Linked DNA regions of Homo sapiens. The protein of the gene in region 1 purifies or fractionates together with the protein of each later gene. This does not show direct contact. Each region holds a gene or a part of one and is shown on either strand. Other genes may lie near its edges.

What was found. The genes of interacting proteins can lie anywhere in the genome.
Region 2: the proteins of CUL4A (region 1) and COPS6 purify together in Homo sapiens (affinity purification with mass spectrometry; 15 studies listed by BioGRID and IntAct, with this or other methods). This does not show direct contact.
Region 3: the proteins of CUL4A (region 1) and WDTC1 purify together in Homo sapiens (affinity purification with mass spectrometry; 11 studies listed by BioGRID and IntAct, with this or other methods). This does not show direct contact.

The regions. Positions count from the first base shown.
Region 1 is NC_000013.11:113,204,952-113,212,616, reverse strand, and holds the start of CUL4A (cullin-4A), read right to left. Parts: upstream 3,005-7,665; 5' UTR 2,990-3,004; coding exon 2,842-2,989; intron 2,645-2,841; coding exon 2,529-2,644; intron 1-2,528. Other genes in the region: PCID2 (PCI domain-containing protein 2), read left to right, coding at 3,983-4,018. UniProt on the Homo sapiens protein: Core component of multiple cullin-RING-based E3 ubiquitin-protein ligase complexes which mediate the ubiquitination of target proteins. As a scaffold protein may contribute to catalysis through positioning of the substrate and the ubiquitin-conjugating enzyme.
Region 2 is NC_000007.14:100,084,029-100,091,968, reverse strand, and holds the start of COPS6 (COP9 signalosome complex subunit 6), read right to left. Parts: upstream 3,001-7,940; 5' UTR 2,979-3,000; coding exon 2,903-2,978; intron 2,680-2,902; coding exon 2,554-2,679; intron 2,355-2,553; coding exon 2,223-2,354; intron 1,571-2,222; coding exon 1,482-1,570; intron 1,378-1,481; coding exon 1,315-1,377; intron 1,068-1,314; coding exon 1,020-1,067; intron 932-1,019; coding exon 817-931; intron 732-816; coding exon 639-731; intron 550-638; coding exon 449-549; intron 321-448; coding exon 180-320; 3' UTR 1-179. UniProt on the Homo sapiens protein: Component of the COP9 signalosome complex (CSN), a complex involved in various cellular and developmental processes.
Region 3 is NC_000001.11:27,237,615-27,244,631, reverse strand, and holds part of WDTC1 (WD and tetratricopeptide repeats protein 1), read right to left. Parts: intron 1-7,017. UniProt on the Homo sapiens protein: May function as a substrate receptor for CUL4-DDB1 E3 ubiquitin-protein ligase complex.

The DNA.
Region 1 (7,665 bases):
AGATGGGGTTTCACCATGTTGGCCAGGCTGGTCTCAAAATCCTGACGCTCAGGCGATCTACCCACCTTGGCCTCCCAAAGTGCTGGGATTACAGGCATGAGCCACTGCACCCGACTCTGACTCTAGATTTGTATTTCACAATATATACAAAAATTCACTCTACATAGATCGTAGACCTAGATGTAAAACCTAAAACTCTAAAATGTCTGGAAGAAAGTATAAGAGAAAACTTTGTGACCTCAGATTAAGCAAGATTTCTTGGATACTAAAAGCACAATCCATAGAAGAACAAACTGATACATGTGACTTGAAAACTTAAAACAATTACTCTTCAAATGGCACAGTTAAGAGAATCAAAAGACAAGTTGAAGACTAGGCAGAAAGTATTTGCAAGGCGAATATCTGATACAGGACTTGTATCCAGAATACATAATAAACTCAAATACTCAATAATAAGAAAATAACCAACCCAATAAAAATGAGCAAAATATTTAAATAGACACTTCGTCAACGAAGATACATAGAATGGCAAGTAAATACAAAGATGCTTAGCATCAGAGGGAAATGCAAACTAAAACTACAATGACACTCCACCACACACCCACAAGCACAGCTAAAGTTACAGACTGAGGACACCACACGCTGGTGGCGGAGTGGAACTGGAGCTCCCATACACTGCTGGGAGAGACGCACACGCTGGTGGCGGAGTGGAACCGGAGCTCCCATACACTGCTGGGAGAGACGCAAAAGGGGCAGTCACTTGCAAAAACAAGAAATTCCGTACAAAGTTAAACATACATTTTCCATATGACCCTGAGAACTTACTTCTAGATAAAGAAGTAAGCAGAACTCACCTGAGAGGAGTAAGAATATATGTCCAAACAAAGGGTTATTCACAAATGTTTACAGCAGCTTTATTTAAAACAACCCAAGGCCAGGCGCGGTGGCTTATGCTGGTAAACCCAGCACTTTGAGAGACCGAGGTGGGTGGATCACCTGAGGTCAGGAGTTTGAGACCAGCCTGCCCAACATGGCGAAACCCCGACTCTACTAAAAATACAAAAATTAGCCAGGCGTGGTGGCAGGTGCCTGTAATCCCAGCGACTCGGGAGGCTGAGGCAGGAGAATCGCTTGAACCTGCGAGGTGGAGGTTGCAGTGAGCCAAGATCGTGCCATGGCACTCCAGCCTGGGCCACAAGAGTGAAACTCCGTCTCAAAGAACAAACAAACAAAAAACCCCAAACATGGACACCCAAATGTCCATTAACTGGTGAATGGATAAAACAACTGTGGTATACCCATTCTACTAGGTAATAAATTACAATCACACTGCGTTGTGCATGAATCTCAAAAGCACTGTCCTAAGTGAAAGCCAGATACAAAAGACTATGAAATACATGACTGCATTTAGATAAGGTTCTAGAAATCGCAAAATATAGTAACAGAAAGCAAATGGGGGACCGCCAAGGGCTAGGAGTCAGGGGAGAGGGCTGACTGCAAAAGTGGTCATGGCAATTTCGGGGGTGGTAGCAATATTCTACCATTCTACCAAGAAAGATTCCATCTTGACCGTGGTGCCGGTTACGTAACTGCATGCATCTGTTAAAACTTCCTGAAGTGCACATTATATGTAGACTCTATCTCAAAGCTGGTAAGAAAACATCATCCACTTACACTTCAGACAAAGAATGGATGTATGTACACCAAACTGTCAACAGTAGTTTTCTTTGGGTGGTAGGAGTATAGGTGATTGAAGTCTTCTTTTTTGTATTTTTTATAATTTTTACAATGCAGTCACTTGCATATCCAGAAAAAAAGTTTTTTTAATTCAAGCCTTTTAATAGAAATAATTGTATGACACATCGTGACCTAAAATATAGATATTAGACTACTGAATGAATGTTACTTTACAAAAAGAAGACACCAGAAAAAAAGTCGCTTATAAATAAAATATCCAAGTATGGTAAAATGTACTTTTTTGTTACTTCAGAAACGGAACACCATCACTTTGAATTAAATGCTACCAAATCTGTTTGAATACCTTAAAGGCAACCACTAATCACAAAACACAACAGAGAACAAAACCACTTTTTCTGAATTTTGAATTTTTTCAAAATCTGTTTGAATATCTTAAAGGCAACCATTAATCACAAAACACAACAGAGAAAAGACCCTCTTATTACTGTGGCAAGTGACACAGTCATGAGTTTTACATATAACGAGAAAATAATTTGCCGTATACTTGCAAAATATGAGTCACGTGGCTCCTAGAAACACACCTCCTTCTCTTCCGTAATGGGATAACTTTAAATATGGTTCTAAGCAGCTTAAGCCTGAAAACAAAAATTCCACCACGGCAATAAACAAAACCACTTGTTGCCTCTGGGGCTCCCGGCCCTGCAGTGGAGGCAAACGCCCTGCCTTTCCGCTCCCCGGCGAGAGCCTGCGAGGCACCCGGAGCGGCCGCCCGGCCGCGTCTGCGTCACGCGGGGCAGGAGCGGCGTCCCCAGCCCCGGCCGCCGCCTCACCTGGTAGAGCTCCTCGAGGTTGTACCTGATGGAGGTGCTGCTCTGCACGGCCCGCACCGCCTCGTGCAGCTTCCGCCACGTGTCCTGCGTGTAGTTGTCGGGCAGCCGAGGTCTGTCTGCAGGGCGGAGGGAGAGCGGGCGGCTCAGGGCGCGCCGCGAAGCGCCCCGCGTAGCCACCCCCGACCCGGCCGGCGCCCCGGCGCCCCCGCTCCCGGGGCCCGCACGGATCTCGGGGCCTTCCCCCCAAGTCGGGCGGGGTCTCGTGGGGTCCCCGCCCGGGGCGCCTGGCCCTCGACCCGGCCGCCGCACCCACCTCGGAAGTTCTTGATGACCAGCTTCTTGGAGCCGCCCGCGCCCCCCGGCTTGGCGGGCGCGGCGGCCAGGGCCGCGGGCTTGGTGAGGCCGTTGGTGCGGCCCACGAGCGCCGAGAAGCTGCCCTTCCGCGGGGCCTCGTCCGCCATGGCTGGGCCGGAACCGCCGCGCCCCGCCCCGAGCGCCGCCGCCCGCCGAGCTCCGCTCCGCCCGCCCCGGTCCGCGCGGCCTCCGCCCCGTCCTCCTCGCGCGCCCCGCCCCGCCCCGCCCGCGTGCCCGAGCCCAACCGCCGCCGCGCCCGGCTACTCCTGAGGGCTTAGGAACGCGCGCCGGGAATCCCTCCTGAGGGATCGGACTCCCCCTAAGAGATTCGGACACCCCCTCCTGGCTCGAGGGCGCGCGCCGGGACTCCCGTCCTGAGGGATCGGGACCCTCACCCCCGGCTCCGGGGGGCGCACCGAGACCCTGCCCCCAGGGCTCCGGGCACCCCCTCCTGGCTCGGGGATGCGTGCCGCGGGCACCCCTCCTGAGGGGATCGGGAGCCGGGACACCCTCCTGAGGGCCCCGGGGCGCGCGCCTCCTGAGGGCTCGGCACCCCCACCCCGGGCGTGAGACCACCTCGAGGGCTCAGGGGTGCGCGCCGGGACGTGCCCTAACTCCTGCAGGCTCGGGAGCGCGCGGCGGAGGCACCTTATGAGAGCTCGGGAGCGCGCGCCATGTCCCTCCCCCTCCCCCTCCTCGGGCGCGCGCGCCCCGAGGCCCTGGCCCAGCCAGGCGCGGAGGGTCCTCCGCGGCCTGGTTTTCACAAGGGGCAGACGAAGGGTCAGCGCAGTGAAAGGCAGTTTAGCCGTGGGGCTGTCCTCGCCACTGGACCCCAAACCCCTCAGCCCGGGCGGGCCCGAACACACAATCAGAGCCGCTGGCGTCCCGGCTGAGAGGACGGGGCCCCGGCAGAAAGACCCCGGGCCCCCTCAGCCCGAGCGCGTCGCCGAGCCGGTCCCCAGGTTCTCCCTCCGGAACCAACCTGCGCACCCGCGGCGGGGCCGGGGGCGCCAGGACCCAGACGGACCGAGGGCCGGAAGTGACGCCAGCTGGCCCGCTTGAGGCGTAGGGGGTGGCGCTCTCCGTTCGGCGGCGCTCCCATGGCGCACATTACCATTAACCAGTACCTGCAGCAGGTGGGTCCTAGCCGGGGAGCGCGCGGCGGCGTGGTTGGCCCTCGGCGTGTTCCGTGTGTCCCCTCCTGCCTTGGACCCTCAGGCCTTTTCCTTTCCCGCCTCGCCACCCTTCTTCCGTTCGGGTCCCCGGCGGGCAGCCGCGCGAGCCGAACAGCGGCGGCCGGGACTCGGGAAGGCGGCCCGAGTTCTCCCCTGCAGGGCCGCCGTGGGGGCCGGGCGGTGTCCGTGGATCGCGGAGTCGTCGCGGTGTAAGTAGACGCGGCGGTCCCAGGTCGCTGCCCTCACTTGCTGGCACGTGTGGCCGCGCTCCCAGGCGGTCCGAAGGGCCTGCGGGCCACGCCGAGGGCCCGCTGTGGGCGGTGCTGTGTCGGATGGACGCTGTTTCCCAGCAGGATGCGGGATGAATTCGGGGACTCCAGGAGGCGATGGAGGAGTAAGCGCGAGGCTGTGGCCGTGCTGCAGGCCGGGCTCGTGCCCCTCGTCCTCGCTGTCGTTTAACGCCCTTCACTCTCCGAGCACAATGCACACTTCATATCGCTCGGTACATGCGTCTGACAGATGTTGTTCAACAGCTTGTAAGTAGCAGAAGCACAGTTAAAAGATGGACACTTGTAAAGATTCAACGCATATTCTTTCCACTAAACTATGCCTGTCTTCAGAACCAGCACTGTGGTAACAGGGATAGGAAATATAGGGAATGGATTTTTAAAATATTTGAAGGAAACATTACCAAGACGTGGTGAATAAGAATGGGTGGGCTGAGGGACACGGAGGAGTTAAGAATGATTCCCAGGCTTGTAATCTGGGAAAAAGATGAATAGAGTGGATTTGGAGGGAGAAATAAAGTTTTGGGCATGTTGAGTTTGAGGTGTCTGTTGACAACTGGGTAAAGATACGTACTTGATAGCTGAAAAGTCTGACATGATTGGGCCCAGCAGTTGCTTGGTTAATTGAGAAAACTGGTTAAAACAGGAATCACGAAGAAATGGATGTATGTTTTTAACTTAAAACATGAAAGTATACATTCACTTGCCAATTTTTTTTTTACACCACTTACCTCAAGTTCTATACTTGCCAATCTTTTGATGTAAGCCCAGGGCCTTTTCTTTAGGCTGTGTCTGTTTTGGCCTAATCTTAGCAGACTTAACATTTTCCAATATCAGTTTATTTAAAGTTAAACAAGGATATAGGCATTTAAGAACCAATTTGATACGATTATCTTTAGAATTTTCTTAATCTTTTACAATTTTTCCCCCATACCTAATTATTTTTTTAACAAACTCAAGTGAGCCTTTTAAAAACATACAACTTAGCTTATAGAGAAACAACTGTTTCCTTTTGCATTCATATTTCATTGATGAGCTTAAAAGTACATAACTACCATAACAGGTTCGGGTAGCAAAAATAGATTTGAGAACAAACACATCTGGATATGAGAACACATACAACTTAGCTGGCAAAAGCTTGCGATGTATTAGAGTGAAGCCTACTTGCTGAAAGTCGTCATCATACCTTGGGCATCAGCTCGTGTATTTCAGGGAGGGATTGGAGAGAGTCATTTTTCCAATTCAAGTCAGTTAAAGTGAGACTGATAAGCGAGCTTCTACTCTATGTGTGTAAACTGAAGTTTAAACAGACAGATTTGGGTTAAAGATACAAACCTGAGACTCCTTCGTAGTCACATGATGGGAAAGACTGAGAAGGGAAGGGGTGACCCAGGGAACAAGTAGAGAGAGTAGACAGGGGCTGGGCCCAGGATGGACTTCTATGGAGATGTGCATGCCTACATCTCCGCAAAGGGCAGTGTAGCCACTGGGGTGAGACAGCAAAAAGTCCGCTTCCTCCTAATTCTGATGGATAAAAATATTTCTGGTTGAACTGGCATGTTACCTAAGTTTTATGTATTAACAGATTCTTGAATATTTTAAGAAAATAGGTGCCTCTTCGATACAGAATGGCAACCGGTTATACATGGTAACACATGTTTGATTTGTTGTATAGGAACATAAGTGCCAATGTCACTGTATCTCTTTGGGAATAAAACCATCATTTGCACATTCATCAAAGCTAGGAAGTTGGGGGAAATCATTGACTCCTCCTTTAGTCTCAGCAAATAGTCCTTTACCTAATTGGATGTATCTCCGAAGTCTCTCAGATCCATCCCTTCTTTATCTGTTGCCACATGCTCCCCAGCCAGGACGCCCTGCTGCAGGTACTGGTTGATGGTTTCCTTTACTTTGCCCTTTCCAAGTGAGACACAGCAAAGAGACCATAGACTTTAAAGACAATAAGACTTCAGCCCAAATCCTGGCATTTTTACTAATTCTGGGACCATGACAAGTTATCTAACTTCTGTGACTCTCCATCTCTAAACAGGCTTCACATAAGTTGTGAGAATTAAAAAGACCATGAATTCACAGTAAATGCATTTACTTAGTAAATGATAGTTCTGGTATTTTATTGAAGAAGAGTTGAGCATCTGCCTCTGTTACTAAAACTTCATTGACTCTCTGTTTCCTCCAGGGAAAGTTCCAAATGCTTTAGCACATCATCTGGTCCATGTTTACCTGTTAACTTGGCATCACCAGTCTGAAGGTTTATTTCACTTATGCTGAATGCACCATTGCCCCACCGAAGTACTCATAACTTAAAATATACCATTTAACCATTTTAAAGTACACAATTAAGTACATTCACAATATTGCACAACCATCACCATTATCCAGAATTTTTTGTCACCCCAAATGGAAATGTCATAAGCATTAAGCAGTCACTCCCTGGTCCTCCCTCCCGAGCGCTTGTCAACCGCTAATGTGCTCTCTGTCTGTATGGATTTGCTGACTCTGGTGATTTCAGTATGTGGCTTTTGTGTGTCTTTCCCTTGCATCATGTTTTCAGGGTTCATCTGTGTTGGAACATGTGTCAGTGTGTCGTTCTTTTTTATGGCTAATGATATTCCATTGTATGGAGTATTTTGTTTATCCATTCATCAGTTGATGGACCACTTCAGTTGTTTCCTCTTTTTGGCTGTTGTGCTGCTGCTGTGAACATTCTTGCGCAGGTTTTGTATTCTTTTTGGCATATACCTAAGAGTGGAATTGCTGAGTCATATGGTAATTCTGTGTTTAACTTGTTAAAGAAATGCCAAAGCAGCTAGCTGCATCATTTTACATTTTCACCAGCAATGTATGAGGGTTGCAATTTCTTCACTTTCTTGTCAATGCTTGTTTTTTTCCATTCTTTTTATTATGGCCATCCTGCTGGGTGCGGAGTGGTATCTTCTTGTGGCACCCCATGATCTTTCTTGTCCCAAAGATTTTCTTCATTATGTTCCTTTTGCCAAGAACACCTCTCTTTTTTACAGGTGTAGTGAACATCTTTATTTAGGGAATCAGCTTTGAGTTAGATACTTTACTCCTTAATCTTCAGTAGTTCTTCATATTGTCTTTCAAGAGTTTATGGAATTGGAAAGTTTGACTATTCAGAAGTGACTTCAGAGGTTCATGACCTGTAATGATTTTGAATTTTTAAAAGAGTTATGAGTTCCAAGAGTAGATGGTGCCTCCTGTGGACCAGACTGGAGGGCGTGAGGGGCATGCAGCAACCACAAGGAAGTCTTCCTGGGGCCAGAGCCAGGGAGCATCCCC
Region 2 (7,940 bases), on another chromosome or scaffold:
GATGAACATCCAAGTTGACCAACCAGTGTGGTGCCTAACAGAGGACAGAGCCACCAGCAGGGGTGCTCAGGGGCTGCTCCCCTTTTATTAATGACAGCGGTTTCTCTCAAGGAAGTGTAGTGCCCTCCCCTTTGGGATAGTTGCCTGACCCCTGTCCATCAGCCCTTCAAGTACCCTCATCAGAAAAAGAGCCCGCGCATTCTCCTGCCGATGCCTTGTCGGTCGTAGAGGACATTGAACTTGTTCACAAACTGGTTCATGGTGTTGCACGTTTTGGTGATGGTGCCGAGGTAGGCCATGAGCCCCACGTCGTTGCATTGCTGGGAGGGAACAGAAAGGACCAGTTCCTCGGGATCCCTCGTGGCATGCCCGGGGAACAACAGTCCCCAGTCCTGCACGTGAAAGTGACAGCATAAGCCCCGCCTCCCCATCCGGGTTTTACACTCACATCATAAAAATCTGTCTTGAACTTGTCTGTGCTGAGCACCGGGAGACAGTGACACAGAGCATAGGCCTCCCGCAGGATCTCATGATTAAAGGGGACCTCTCCTAAAGGCACAAAAAGAGACTACATTAGTTTGGATGCTGTCACTTCCCCAGGAGGGAGAGGAAGAATGCCAGGGAAGCCCCTGTCCTACCCGCTTCAGAGGCCTTGACGTACTCCAAGATGAGCTTGACGCGGCTGTGCAGCATCTTGATGGCGCTGTGCTGTGCTATCAGGTGTTCAGCCACTGCAAGGGGATGAGGACAGGAGGAGGTTGAGACGGGATGTGGCCACACCTTCCAACCCCACTTCCAAGGAATCCCCTCCATTACCAGTGGAGTTCTCTCCACTGCCTGTTGCTGTCATTCGGGCTACGTGGTCTACACCAATGCGTTCCGCTTCCTCTGTGGCCAGAGTGTAGGTCAGCTCAGCAAACAGCATTGTGGCCTACAGGGCAAGGTAACCCACAAAGGGAGAATCAAAAGCAGGAAAGAGGCCAAGAGCAGGATCTGAGGGTTGAAGGGTAGGGTATTACCTCTCCATTGATTATATCAATGACAGACTCAAAAACGCTGACAGGAAGCTGTGAAGGAGACGGAGAAACCTGAACACTATATGCCAACATTTGGGCTAGCTGCTTTTACACATTTCCTCTCATCTTCCCAAGAAACCAATGAAGTAGGGATTACCTCCTTTCACAGTTTGGAGATTAAATGACTAAGCCAGAGTCACAGCTGGTAAGTGGCATCTGGCATTCCCCAATAGAGGAGTGTCACACAGTAAAAGGTATAGCGACAATCATGACAGAGTAGGCATGGAGTATTACTCACATCTGTGTGCTTGGTCATAGGGTTCAACTTCAGAAAGAGGGGGCTCTCGATGATCTCACACACCTGGAAGAGAGGGACAATGCACAGGAAGTCAGTGCCCCCTACCTTTCTCCTTCCCCTCATTCTCCATTCTCTGCCCCAGCATGCACAGGTGTGAGCATGCATACCTGCTTATGGACGTGGATGTCCGAGGGGTCAGGTGGCCCCCCTGTGGTATACCAACCCAGAAACTCCAGCTCCTTGAACACCTGTTTAACTAGAGGGGAAGGGGCCAGAACATATAGTAATTCTTTTTTTTTTTTTTTCTGAGACGGAATCTCGCTCTGTTGCCCAGGCTGGAGTGCAGTGGCATGATCTCAGCTCACCACAACCTCCGCCTCCCAGGTTCAAGCAATTCTCCTGCCTCAGCATCCCGCGTAGCTGGGACTACAGGCACGCACCACCATGCCAGACTAATTTTTGTATTTTTAGTAGAGGTGGGGTTTCACTATGTTTGCCAGGCTGGTCTTGAACTCCTGACCTCATGATCCACCCACCTCGGCCTCCCAAAGTGCTGGGATTAGAGGCATGAGTCACTGAGCCCGGCCTGACATAGTAATTCTTTAAACCATCCTTCCTCAATGTGAAGCTCCTGGTGTATTTTCACCAGCTTCTCTCCTCCCTCCTCAAATCCTGGCTCAGTTTAGAATAACTACTCCCTTCTATCCTGTCTCCTCTCATCCTTTGCTTTCTTTTGAGAAAGAACTCTGAACGTTTTCTTTTTCTGAGATCTCTCCAGCTACTCTTCACTTTTTCTCCCCTGTTCTTGGTCTCCTCTCCTGTTTCTTTCCAACCCTCTCCATCTTCCCCACCCTGTACATTTTTTTTTTAACTCCCACTCCTCTTCCCCACATCTATTCCACTCTCACACTGCTCCTCCTTGGTGTAATAATATTCCTTGTCAATGATAATCTTCTCTTCCACGGTGTGGGACAGCAGCTCAAAGGAGTTCATCACCTCGATATTTCGGCCCTCCTGCTTGCCAATCAGAGCCCCAATCACTGGGAAAGAGAATGACATGGAAAAGGTGAGGGTAAAGAAACTTCTATGACCTGAGGGTCTGAGATCAGTGGGAACCATGTATTGGGGAAACGATGATTTGGGGGAGGGGGAATTGGCTCCAGTAGAGGAAGGGGAAAAGACCACTGCCTGGGGGAGGTGAGCAAGGAGAAGAGACTGGAGTCTATGCCCAACACTCACCCTGCACAGGCCGCCCCTCCTGGGAGCGCATGCGGATCCAGTGGTCTGAGATGTTGAGAATGACAAGGGGATGGAGAGCGACGGAAACACTCCCAGTCACTCCGCAGGCCATCACGCTGGGGACTACTAAGGGTGGAGGGAAAGGAGAGAGGGTGAGAGTCCGGGCCCCACGTTCTTCCCTGGAGATGGCAGTGGGGGACGGCGGAGCCCGGGCCACACTTTCCTCCCGTAACTTATCCCAGGGAAAGATGTTGCTGCTCCGCCCTCCTCCCTTCTCCCGGGAGCACAGGGAGGCCTCAACGAACCCCTGAAGGAGGTCTCCGGAAGCCACCCCCGCACGGCCCGTTACCTGCTGCATCCACCTCCATCCCGCTGCTTCCTCCGGTCCCGTTCGTAGCTGCAGCCGCCGCCGCCGCCGCCGCCATTTTCCCCGCGCCCGCCAGCCTCGGCCCCGCCCCCTTCCTTCCCGGCTTCCGTAAGGCGAGCGGCGCATGTTCGGTGTCCCCGCGGCGTGCGGCGGGCCTGGCGTCCGGGGAGCAGGCAGTTCCCGGGTCGCGGCGGGCGGCACTCGGTGCGGGGACGCCCGACGCCCTCTGGGCCTCGGTGCCTAGCGGGTTTTCCCAGACCCTGTCCCCGCCTGTCGCCTGCGGGTGACCTTTGACAAATTAACGACTTGATCGTCCTCGTCTGTGAAATTGGGATAAGAACGCCTAGTTCTTAAGGCTGTTGCAGAAGGAATGACATGTCGTGTTATTTCCCTCACAATAAAATCCAAACAACTAACCACAACCTGCAAGGCCCTGCCTGATCTGGCCCCGGCCTGGCCTCTTCTAGCCCTTGATCTTCAGGCTTCAGCTGCACTGGCCCTCATGTCTGGTGGTGGTGGTGGTTTGTTTTGTTTTGTTTGAGACAGGGTCTCGCTCTGTCGCCCAGGCTGGAGTGCAGTGGCCTGATGTCAGCTCACTGCACCCTCAAACTCCTGGGCTCAAGTGATCCTCCCAGTTCAGCCTCCCGAGTAGCTGGGACTACAGGCGCACCCCACCGCACCCAGCTAATTTTATTATTTGTTTTTATTTTGATAGAGACGGGGGTCTCACTAGGTTGTCCAGGCTGGTCTCCAACTCCCGGGCAGAAGAGATCCTCCATCCTCAGCCTCCCAAAGCACTGGGATTACAGGCATGAGCCACCGCACCCAGCTCTCCGTGTGTTTTTCACATGCTTTAGTTTCCCATTCAAAAGCCTGTGGTTCCTTCTCTTGTTCATCATGGTATCCCCTGTGACCAACACGGTGCCTGACACATTGGAGCCTAGATACTTTTTGAGTGAATGAAGGAATAATTAGGGGTGGAATCTGGTGTTGAGTTAGTTGCTCCATCTTGTGAAAGTTGCAGATACCAGGACAAAATCACATTGTCAGGTCCAAACAAATTGGAGCCATGAGAACACCAAGGAGAAGGTCTCATGCTTGCATGTCTGAGATAGGAATTATCTCAAGGACTTTCGAAAATAACCCCACAAGGCCAGGCATGGTGGCTCACACCTGTAATACCAGCATTTTGGGAGACCGAGGCCAGACAATCACTTGAGGTCAGCAGTTTGAGACGAGCCTAGCCAACATGGTGAAACCCCATCTCTACTAAAAATACAAAAATTAGCCAGGCGTGGTGGCAGGCGCCTGTAATCCCAGCTACTCAGGAGCCTGAGGCAGGAGAATTGCTTGAACCCGGGAGGTGGAAGCTGCAGTGAGCTGCGATCGCGCCACTGCACTCCAGCCCGGGCAAGACAAAGTGAGACTCCATCTCAAAAAAAAAAAAAAAAGAAAGAAAGAAAGAAAGAAAGAAGATAACTCCACAAGGCCAGGCATGGTGACTCACGCCTGTAATCCTAGCACTTTGGGAGGCCAAGGTTGGAGGATCACTTGAACCCAGGAGTTTGAGACCAGCCTTGGCAACATGGTGACACCTTGTTTCAACAAAACATGGAAACAAAATTCGCTGGGTATGGTAGAGGCATGCCGAGGAAATTTATGCTTGGGAAGTGAGTCAAAACTCCCTTCCTTTTTGTTCCCAGATAGCTGTAATTCCACAACCCTGTGTCATAGCCTCATACATAAGCCAGGCTCCTACAATGGCAAAAGGCATATACCTCCCCAGATGGTCTTCCTCACAAATTGCTTGCCAGGAAATTCCTCATTAGCCTCTGAATCTTTCAGCATAAACATTCCCCCTATAAACCAGCCCTAATCCGAGTTCTGTGAAATCTCATACTGACAATGTTGATTACAAGCTTATCTTCCCAATTATAGAACAAGGAAGAGACCAGGAATCATCCCTCCACCTATCCTGAGACAGATGCATAACTGACTTTTTCCTCCACTCCCTCTTTTCAAATGTTTATTGTATCTTACATAAAATGTAGATTTACTGAACACTAATGAGAAACTCACAAAAAAGTAACAATGTGCAGCAGGGTGTGCAGTGGCTCATGCCTGTAATCGCAGCACTTTGGGAAGCGAGTGGATCACTTGAGGCCAGGAGTTCAAGACCAGCCTGGCCAACATGGCAAAACCCCATCTTTACTAAAAATACAAAAATTAGCTGGGTGTGGTGGTGCCCACCTGTAATCTCAGCTACTTGGGAGGCTGAGGCAGGAGAATCACTTGAGCCTAGGAGGTGGAGATTGCAGTGAGCCGAGATGGACCCACTGGACTCCAGCCTGGGCAACAGATTGAGACTCTATTTCAAAAAATAAAATAAAATAACCATTTGCTGGACTGGGTGCAGTGGCTCACGCCTGTAATCCCAGCACTTTGGGAGGCCGAGGCAGGCAGATCACAAGGTCAAGAGATTGAGACTATCCTGGCTAACACTGTGAAACCCCGTCTCTACTAAAAATACAAAATATTAGCTGGGCATGGTGACACGCACCTGTAGTACCAGCTACTTGGGAGGCTGAGGCACAAGAATCGCTTGAACCTGGGAGGCAGCGGTTGCAGTGAGCCGAGATTGCGCCACTGCACTCCAGCCTGCTGACAGAGCGAGACACTGTCTTAAGAAAAACAAAACAAAACAAAACAAAAAACATTTGCCTCACTGCCTCTCCTTCTTCCTTATTTTCCTCTTGCATGCTTTCTTCCCTTAAATACTGAGTTCCTGGCCAGGCACAGTGGCTTATGCTTGTAATCTCAGCACTTTGGGAGGCCGAGGTGGGTGAATCACCTGAAGTCAGGAGTTCAAGACCAGCCTGGTCTCGACCAGTAGAGATGGTGAAACCCCATCTCTACTAAAAATACAAAAATTAGCCAGGCGTGGTGGTGCATGCCTGTAATCCCAGCTACTCGAGAGGCTGAGGGAGGAGAATCACTTGAACCCGGGAGGCGGAGGTTGCAGCGAGCCGAGATCACACCACCACACTCCAGCCTGGTTGACAAAGCAAGACTCTGTCTCATAAAAAAACCCAAAATTCACATCTGGCTAGCCTAGGCTGCTCCACCCCCTCCTTACCCCTAAACCTAAGCAAGTTGCACACACTGCTCCTCCTGCCACCCCTACAAAGAGGGGTACAGACACCTAGAAAGAGCCAGACATACTCTGGCTCTAGGTGTCTGTATCCCCACCCAAAGTGTAAGCTCCTAGAAAGCAGGTGAAGAACTGTGTTATGACCCTGAACAGCCCCATATGGTGATAGTTGTAATTTACAGGGGAATTATGCAATCTCTCCGTTTAGGAGCCTGGATGAAGGAAACTTGAAGGGGCCAGCAACCCTCAATGGAACGGACTTGAGAAATCCTGCAGGAAGAGGGGTCTTCTCGCCAAAGGGAAGTTAAAAAGGAATTTATTTTATTCTAGTCCCCAGTGATAAACCAACCAGGTCTGGACAAACTGAGAGGGTTGTCAAAGAAAAGTACCTAATGCCTTGTTTCTATTTGGAAAAACCAGGTCAGAAAAATGTATCTCTTTGGTGAGATGTTGGCTCACTGCAACCTCCACCTCCTGGGTTCAAGTGATTCTTGTGCCTCAGCCTCCCAAGTAGCTGAGATATCAGGCTTGCGCCACCACACCTGGCTCATTTTTGTATTTTTAGTAGAGATGGGTTTTCAGCATGTTGGCTAGTCAGTTCTCAGACTCCTGGCCTCAACCGATCCACCTGCCTCGGCCTCCTAAAGTGCTAGGATTACAGGTGTGAGCCACCGTGCCTGGCCAGAAAAATGTCTCTCTTTAAAGAATGCTAGGCAGCTTCCAAGGAGCATAGTGCTTCTCAGCTAGATAGAAGGCTAAAATAAAAACAAGATGAGAATTATTCTAGGGTTAGTAAAGTTGATCGTTTGCACTGCTCTCTCACACATTAAAGAACTCCTTTGCCTTGTTGTTTCAGGTGCTTTTGAAACATTGTTCAGATAATTATACAGCTCATAAAACAAGAGATTATTGTGGAATTTAAGGATGACTTTGACATTGAATCAGTTGATTGTGCGCATTTTAGAACTAAGTTTGCTAAACGTTTCTTTTTTTTTGTTTTTGTTTTGTTTTGTGTTTGTTATTGTTGTTTTTGAGACAGAGTCTTGCTCTGTCACCCAGGCTGGAGTGCAGTGTTACAATCACAATTCAGTGCAGCCTCAACCTCCTGAACTCAAGTGACTGTCCCATCTCAGCCTCCCAAGTAGCTGGGACTGCAAATGCGTGCCACCACGCCAGGCTAAATTTTGTATTTTTTGTAGAGATAGAGTTTCGCCATATTTGTTTGTCTCAAAACAAACAAACAAACAAACCAAAAAAATATCCCCACCCCAAAAACAAAAACGAACAAAAAGCAAGTGCTCCTTTTTGGTATGGGTCAGTGGTTATCTATTCACCTATCAGTCATTAATTTAACAAATATTTGGGAGTGCCTACCAGGCAGCAGGTACATCACTAAACAAAACGAAGTCCTGACCTCATGGAGCTTATACCCTAGTTGTAGGAAACAGACCATAAACATACTTCAGGATACGTATATATATACAGAGATGGAGTATCCCTCTGTCGCTCCCAGGCTGGAGTGCAGTGGTGCGATCTCGGCTCACTGCAACCTCCACCTCCCAGGTTCAAGCCATTCTGCCACCTCAGTCTCCCAAGTAGCTGGGATTACAGGTGCCTGCCACCACTCCCGGCTAATTTTTGTTTTTGTATTTTTAGTAGAGGCAGGGTTTCACCATGTTGGCCAGGCTGGTCTCAAACTCCTGACCTCAGGTGATCTATCTGCCTCGGCCTCCCAAAGTGCTGGGATTACAGGCGTGAAGCACTGCACCCGGCCAACAAATTGAATTTTAAAGATTGAGTTGGCTTTATTAGGGATTCATGAACTGGCAGCACCCAGTCTACAAAACAGAAAGGAAGCCAGGTGTGATG
Region 3 (7,017 bases), on another chromosome or scaffold:
CTCATGCCTGTAATCTCAGTGCTTTGGGAGACCGAGGCAGGAGGATCACTTGAAGGCCGGGAGGTCGAGAGCAGTCTGGGCAACAGAGTAAGATCCTGTCTCTATAAAAAAGTTTTTTAAAAATTAGCCAGGCATGGTGGCACACTCCTGTAGTCCTAGCTACTAGGAAGGCTGAGGCAGGAGGGAGGAGGGAGAATTGCTTGAGCCCAGGAGTTTGAGGCTATATTGAGCTATGATTGTGCCTCTGCACTCCAGCCCGTGTGACAAAGTGAGGCGCTGTCTCAAAAACAAAACAAAACAAAAGAAAGAAAGAGCATAATAAAATGAAGAGTGTAGCTGTGGACCTAACAGATCTTAGGTTCAAATCCCAGTTCTGACACCTATTTTCTGTCTGACTTGACATTTCTTTTAAATTTTTTTTTCTTTTCTATACCTCTTACGTCTCTTCATCTTTTTAATTTTTTTAAAAAAATTTTTATTTGTTTTGAGACAGGGTCTGGCTCTGTCACCCAGGCTGGAGTGTGGTAGCATGATCTCAGCTCACTGCAACCTCTGCCTCCCGGGCCCAAGAGATCCTCCCATCTCATCAGCCTCCCGAGTAGTTGGGACCACGGGCATGCACCACCCACACACACCTGGCTAATTTTTGCATTTTTTTTTTTTTTTTTTGTAGAGATGGGGTTTCACCATGCTGCCCAGGCTGGTCTCGAACTCCTGGGCTCAAGCGATCTGCCCACCTCAGCCTCCCAAAGTGTTGGGATTATAGGCATGAGTCACCATGCCAGACCCTGACTTGACACTTCTAAACCTTAGTTTCCTAATCTGATAATACCTACCTCTGCAGGGTGAGGAGGAACAGAAGCGCTTGCATGTAAAATGCCTGACACTGATCCTATTAAATAATATTTATTGAACATTCTAACAGTTTACAAGTGTCATCTCACAGACTCCTCATAATAATCCTATGAGACAGGTGCTATTGTTATCCTCATCTTACAGATGCAGGATCTGAGGCACAGAAAAGTGAAGTTGCCAAAGCTACACAGTTCTTAGACAGAGAGTCAACCTATACAGTCTGACTCCAGGGGCCAGGCCATTGGCCACTAAATAATAATTACTGGGCCGGGTGTGGTGGCTCACACCTGTAATCCAGCACTTTGGGAGGCCAAGGCGGGCAGATCACTTGAGGTCAGGAGTTCCAGACCAGCCTGGCCAATGTGGTGAAACCCTGTCTCTATTAAAAATACAAAAATTAGCCGGACATGGTGGCAGGCGCCTGTAATCCCAGCTGCTGGGGAGGCTGAGGCAGGAGAATCACTTGAACTCAGGAGGCAGAGGTTGCAGTGAGCCAAGATCGAGATCATGCCACTGCACTTCAGCCTGGGTGACAGAGTGAGACATTGTCTCAAAAAAAAAAAAAAAAAAAAAAAAAATTACTGGCCAGGGAGCAGCGGCTCACACCTGTAATATCAGTATTGATACAATTTCAGGAAGCTGCTGAAACTTTGTCTCTTACCATTCCTTAGGGTTAAGCTGCCTTGACTCTGCTGATCTCAAACACAAATTTAAAGAGTGCCATTTCAAGGTCATGGACTAAGTTGGTACAAGGACAGTTTCTGGGAAAGCTTTCGCTGGTAGGATAGACTCATCACCAAAGCATCTTCAGGAAACTTCTTAGCCATCTTTGAGGCTCCTGGCTTAAATAATCCCATGTAGGACTGCTTGAGGTTTTCTCTGCAGAAGAGAGCTGCTTCTAAGCAATGCTTTACTTTCTGGGAAGCTTTAGATAAAAACTCACCTTGATGTCTTCTCCCCTGCCCAGTGGGCTCCGTATTGCTGTTTGAGCTTTTAAGAGACAGGGTCGCCTGGGTGCGGTGGCTCACGCCTGTAATCCCAGCACTTTGGGAGGCCGAGGTGGGTGAATCACCTGAGGTCAGGAGTTTGAGGCCAGCCTGACCAACATGGTGAAACCCTGTCTCTACTAAATACAAAAAATTAGCCAGGCGTGGTGGTGCATACCCGTTATCCCAGCTACTCGGGAGGCTGAGGCAGGAGAATCACTTGAACCCGGGAGGCAGAGGTTGCAGTGAGCCGAGATTGCACCATTGCACTCCAGCCTGGGCGACAGGAGCGAAACTCCGTCTCCGTCTCAAAAAAAAAAGAGACAGGGTCTAGCTCTGTTCCCCAGGCTGGAATGGAATGTAGCACTATCACAGTTTACTGCAACTTTGAACTCCTAGGCTTAAGGGATCCTCCTGCCTCAGCCTCTTGAGTAGCTAGGATTACAGGTGCAAATCACCATGCCTGGCTACTTTTATTTTTATTTTTTGTAGAGATGGGGGTCTCATCATTTTGCCCAGGCTGTTCTTGAAGTCCAGGCCTCAAACAATCCTCCCATCTCACCCTCCCAAAGTGCTAGGGTTACAAGTGTGAACCATCTGGCCAGGCACGGTGGCTCATCCCCGTAATCCCAACACTTTGGGAGGCCAAGGCAGGAGGATCACTGGAGGTCAGGAGTTGGAGACCAGCCTGGCCAACATGGTAAAACCCCGTCTCTACTAAAAATACAAAAATTAGCCAGGCGTGATGGCACACGCCTGTAATCCTAGCTACTCAGGAGGCTGAGGCAAGAGAATCGCTTGAACCCAGGAGCCTGAGGCTGCAGTGAGCCAAGATTGCACCACTGCACTCCATCTTGGGTGACACAGCGAGACTCTCAAAAAAAAAAAAACAAAAAAAAACAGTGTGAGACATCACACCCAGCCACTTGTTTGAGCTTTGTGAAAATTTTTTCTGGATGTTTTCAGAACTTTGTTTTCCAGTGATCATAGCTAATTTTCCTGTCTGCTCTTAGGCCTCACAATTACCTTAAGATAGTGGAAGGAAACAGAGAAAAGGGAGCATATTTTGATAATGCTATACTCTCTCACTATTTAAAAGCATCTGCAGTCTTTAACTTGCATCCTGACAAATCCTGCCACAATTCAAAATATCTCTTGTAGAGAAGGCTCTGGAGTTTCATCCTGTAACTCTACTACTAGCTGCAAGGTCAAGGAAAACTAAACCATTCAAGTTAGAAATGTTTCCTTTCTAACTCAGTGACAGTAGTGTTATATCCAGATGTGTAACTCAAAAGGGAACCAGGTAGGCCATCAGCACCCAAACACTCAGGCCTCAACTATGAAGCTCCCTGACCATGAATGCCTAGCTCCCATTCTCAGGAAGGCCCCCTAAGAGGTTCAAGGATAAGCAGTTTTATAGAATTTGGGGGGTCATGAATAAGGACAAAATTGTACAAAAGTCCTGATCCAAACACTGCCCTCAACAGCCTCTGGAGAGCTCCCTGGGCAAGGTCTGATCCTGTTCTCCACCCCATCTCCAAGAAAATGGGGTTAATACCTCCCCAGATGGCTATACGGAGGATTAAGGGTCATTATTCTTGGCACTGAGCTCTGTTACAGCTCTAGCAGTTGTGACCTTGTATCCTAAAAGAAGATAATAAATACAAAAATGCCAACGGTGACCCTCAAATCTGGCTCTGCAGTAGTAGCTGAGAATTTTCTTTGCACAGGGCCTCTGACACTGCCTCCTATACACTCTGGCCTTTTGACTGCATCCTCCCCTTATTCAGGCTTAAAGTTTTTTTGTTTTTTTTTTTTGAGATGGAGTCTCACTGTCACCCAGGCTGGAGTACAGTGTTGCGATCTCAACTCACTGCAACCTCCACCTTCTGAGTTCATGCGATTCTCCTGCCGCAGCCTCCTGAGTAGCTGGGACTACAGACACCCGCCACCACGCCAGGCTAATTTTTGTATTTTTAGTAGAGACAGGGTTTCACCACCTTGGCCAGGCTGGTCTCAAACTCCTGACCTTGTGATCCGCCCACCTCAGCCTCCCAAAGTTCTGGGATTACAGGCATGAGCCACTGCGCCCAGCCCAGGCTTAAAAGTTTTTAAGGTATTAGTCTTCAATGCCACAAAGCCCTTCAAGGAGTCAGCAGCTATTACTTAATAGCTCAAAGAATGGGCCCTAGAACTCTCAGAGTTACACATAGGCCTGAATTTACCCAGAAGAAGCCAACTAAGTGGTATTCCTTTACATCCAAGCCCTGGCTCTTGAGGGCAATCAGTGAGGTCTAGTAAAAAGGATATATTTCATCATTTAGTCCTCAAAAACCCACTAAAAAGTAGGTACTACAATAAGCCTCATTTTATAGGTGAAACTATAGCTCTGAGAGGATACATGATTGGCCCTAGGTCACAGAGCTAAGGAGGAGACATGGGTTCAAATATCAGCCCTACACTACTAGTTGTGTAACCTCCAGCATATTCCTTAACTTTAGTCTAGAGTCTCAGTTTCTCATTTGTAAAGTGGGGATAATGGTAATACCTTCCTTCCAGGGGAGCTCTGAAGATTATAAGAGACATTATAGAAAAAGTAGAGCTGGGCCTGGTGGCTCATGCCTGTAATCCCAGCACTTTGGGGGGCCAAGGTGAGTGGATCACCTGAGGTCAGGAATTCGAGACCAGCTTGGCCAACATGGTGAAACCCCATCTCTACTAAAAAAATACAAAAATTATCCAGGCATGGTGGCGCGCACCTATAATCTCAGCTACTCAGAAGGCTGAGGCAGGAGAATTGCTTGAACCTAGGAGGCGGAGGTTGCAGTGAGCAGAGATCGTGTGCACTCCAGCCTGGGCAATAAGAGCAAAACTCTGTCTTAAAAAAAGAAAGAAAAAGTATCTAGCAAGTGCCTGGTATATACTAAATATTCAATACATGTTAGTTTTTTTGGGTTTTTTTGGTTTTTTTTTTTTTTTTGAGACAGAGTCTCACTCTGTCCCCCAGGCTGGAGTGCACACGATCTTGGCTCACTGCAACCTCTGCGTCCCAGGTTCAAGCAATTCTCATGACTCAGCCTCCCAAGTAGCTGGGATTACAGGTGTGCACCACCACGGCTGGCTAATTTTTTGTATTTTTAGTAGAGACAGGTTTGCCATGTTGCCCAGGCTGGCCTCCAACTCCTGAGCTCTGCCCACATCAGCTTCCCAAAGTGCTAGGATTACAGGCATGAGCCACTGCACAACTGGCTTTTTTTTTTTTTTTTTTTTTTTGAGACAGGGTCTCTGTTGCCCATGCTGGAGTTCAGTAGCGCAGTCTTGGCTCACTGCAACCTCTGCCTCCTGCACTCAAGTGATGCCCCCGCCTCAGATTCCTGGGTAGATGGGAATACAGGCACATGCTACCACACCTGGCTAATTTTTAAATTTTCTTTTTGTAGAGACTGGGTTTCACTATGTTGCTCAGGCTGGTCTCAAACTCCTGGGCTCAAGCAATCCACCCACCTAGGCCTCCCAAAGTGCTGGGATTACAGGTGTGAGCCACCGTGCCAAGCCATGTTAGGTTTTACAGATCAAACAGACAGGGAGGCTGGGCATGGTGGCTCACACCTGTATTCCCAGGACTTTGGGAGGCTGAGGTAGGCAGACTGCTTGAGCCCAGGAGTTTGAGACCAGCCTGAGCAACATAGTGAAACCCCATCTCTATGAAAAAATTAAAAAATTAGCCAGGCGTGATGGCACACACCTGTCTTCCCATCTACCCTGTCTCATAAAAAAAAAAAAAAAAAAAAAGCCAGGAGCGGTGGCTCATGCCTGTAATCCTAGCACTTTGGGAGACCGAGGCAGGTGGAACTCAGGAGTTCAAGACCAGCCTGGGCAACATGGCAAAACCCTGTCTCTAATAAAAATACAAAAAAATTAGCCGGGGCTGGGCGCGGTGTCTCACACCTGTAATCCCAGCACTTTGGGAGGCTGAGGCGGGCGGATCACCTGAGGTCAGGAGTTCAAGACCAGTCTGGTCAACATGGTGAAACCCCATCTCTACAAAAATACAAAAATTAGATGGGCGTGGTGGTACATGCCTATAATTCCAGCTACTTGGGAGGCTGAGGCATGAGAATCACTTGAACCTGGGAGGCAGAGGTTGCAGTGAGCCGAGATCATGCCACTGCACTCCAGCCTGGAAGATGAAGTGAGGCATGGGAATCACTTGAACCTGGGAGGCAGAGGTTGCAGTGAGCTGAGATCATGCCACTGCACTCCAGCCTGGATGACGAAGTAAGACTCTGTCTCAAAGAAAAAAAAAAGATGTGGCAAACTCTCTGCTTGAATATCTGCAATGATGGGTAACTCACTCCCTCACAAGGCAGCCCATTTTGTTTTTAGAAAGCTACATTATCTCCTATCAAACCAAAGTCTACCTTCTTGGAAATTATGTCATTTAATCCTGAGATGCCTTCTAGAATCACAGAGAACATCCAGTTTCCTTTCCCCATGACAATCTTCAAGTATTTGAATGAGGTATCATGTTCCCCCAGGCTCTTAGCCTTGGTCTTTTCAGTTCTTCTTCATGTGTCACAGTCCCAGAGGCAATTCAATATCACAGAGCAGAGAGACCTGGGTTTGAATTCCAGTCCTTCCTCTTACTTGCTGTGTGACCTTAAGCAAATAACTTAATTTCTCTGAATCTGTTTCTTCATAGGTATAATAGGGAAAATGATTCTCACCTCACAGGACAGTCATGAAGGTTACACTGGATAAAGTAAAAATACTAGCTAGCACTGAGCTCAAGATATACCAGGCCCTGAATAAAATGTCAGTCACTTTTTAGGACATATCCCAACTGGCAAATACCTCTCAAAGTAAATTAACTACACCAAGGAACTGGCTTCTTTCTTTTTTTTCTTTTCTTTTCTTTTTTTTTTTTTTGAGATGGAGTTTCACTTTTGTTGCCCAGGCTGGAGTGCAATGGCACGATCACAGCTCACCGCAACCTCCACCTCCTGGGTTCAAGCGATTTTCCTGCCTTAGTAGGAAAATCCCTCCTGAGTAGCTGGGACTACAGGCGCGTGCCACCATGCCCGGCTAATTTTTTTTGTATTTTTAGTAGAGATGGGGTTTCACCGTGTTAGCCAGGATGGTCTCAATCTCCTGACCTCGTGATCTGCCCACCTCA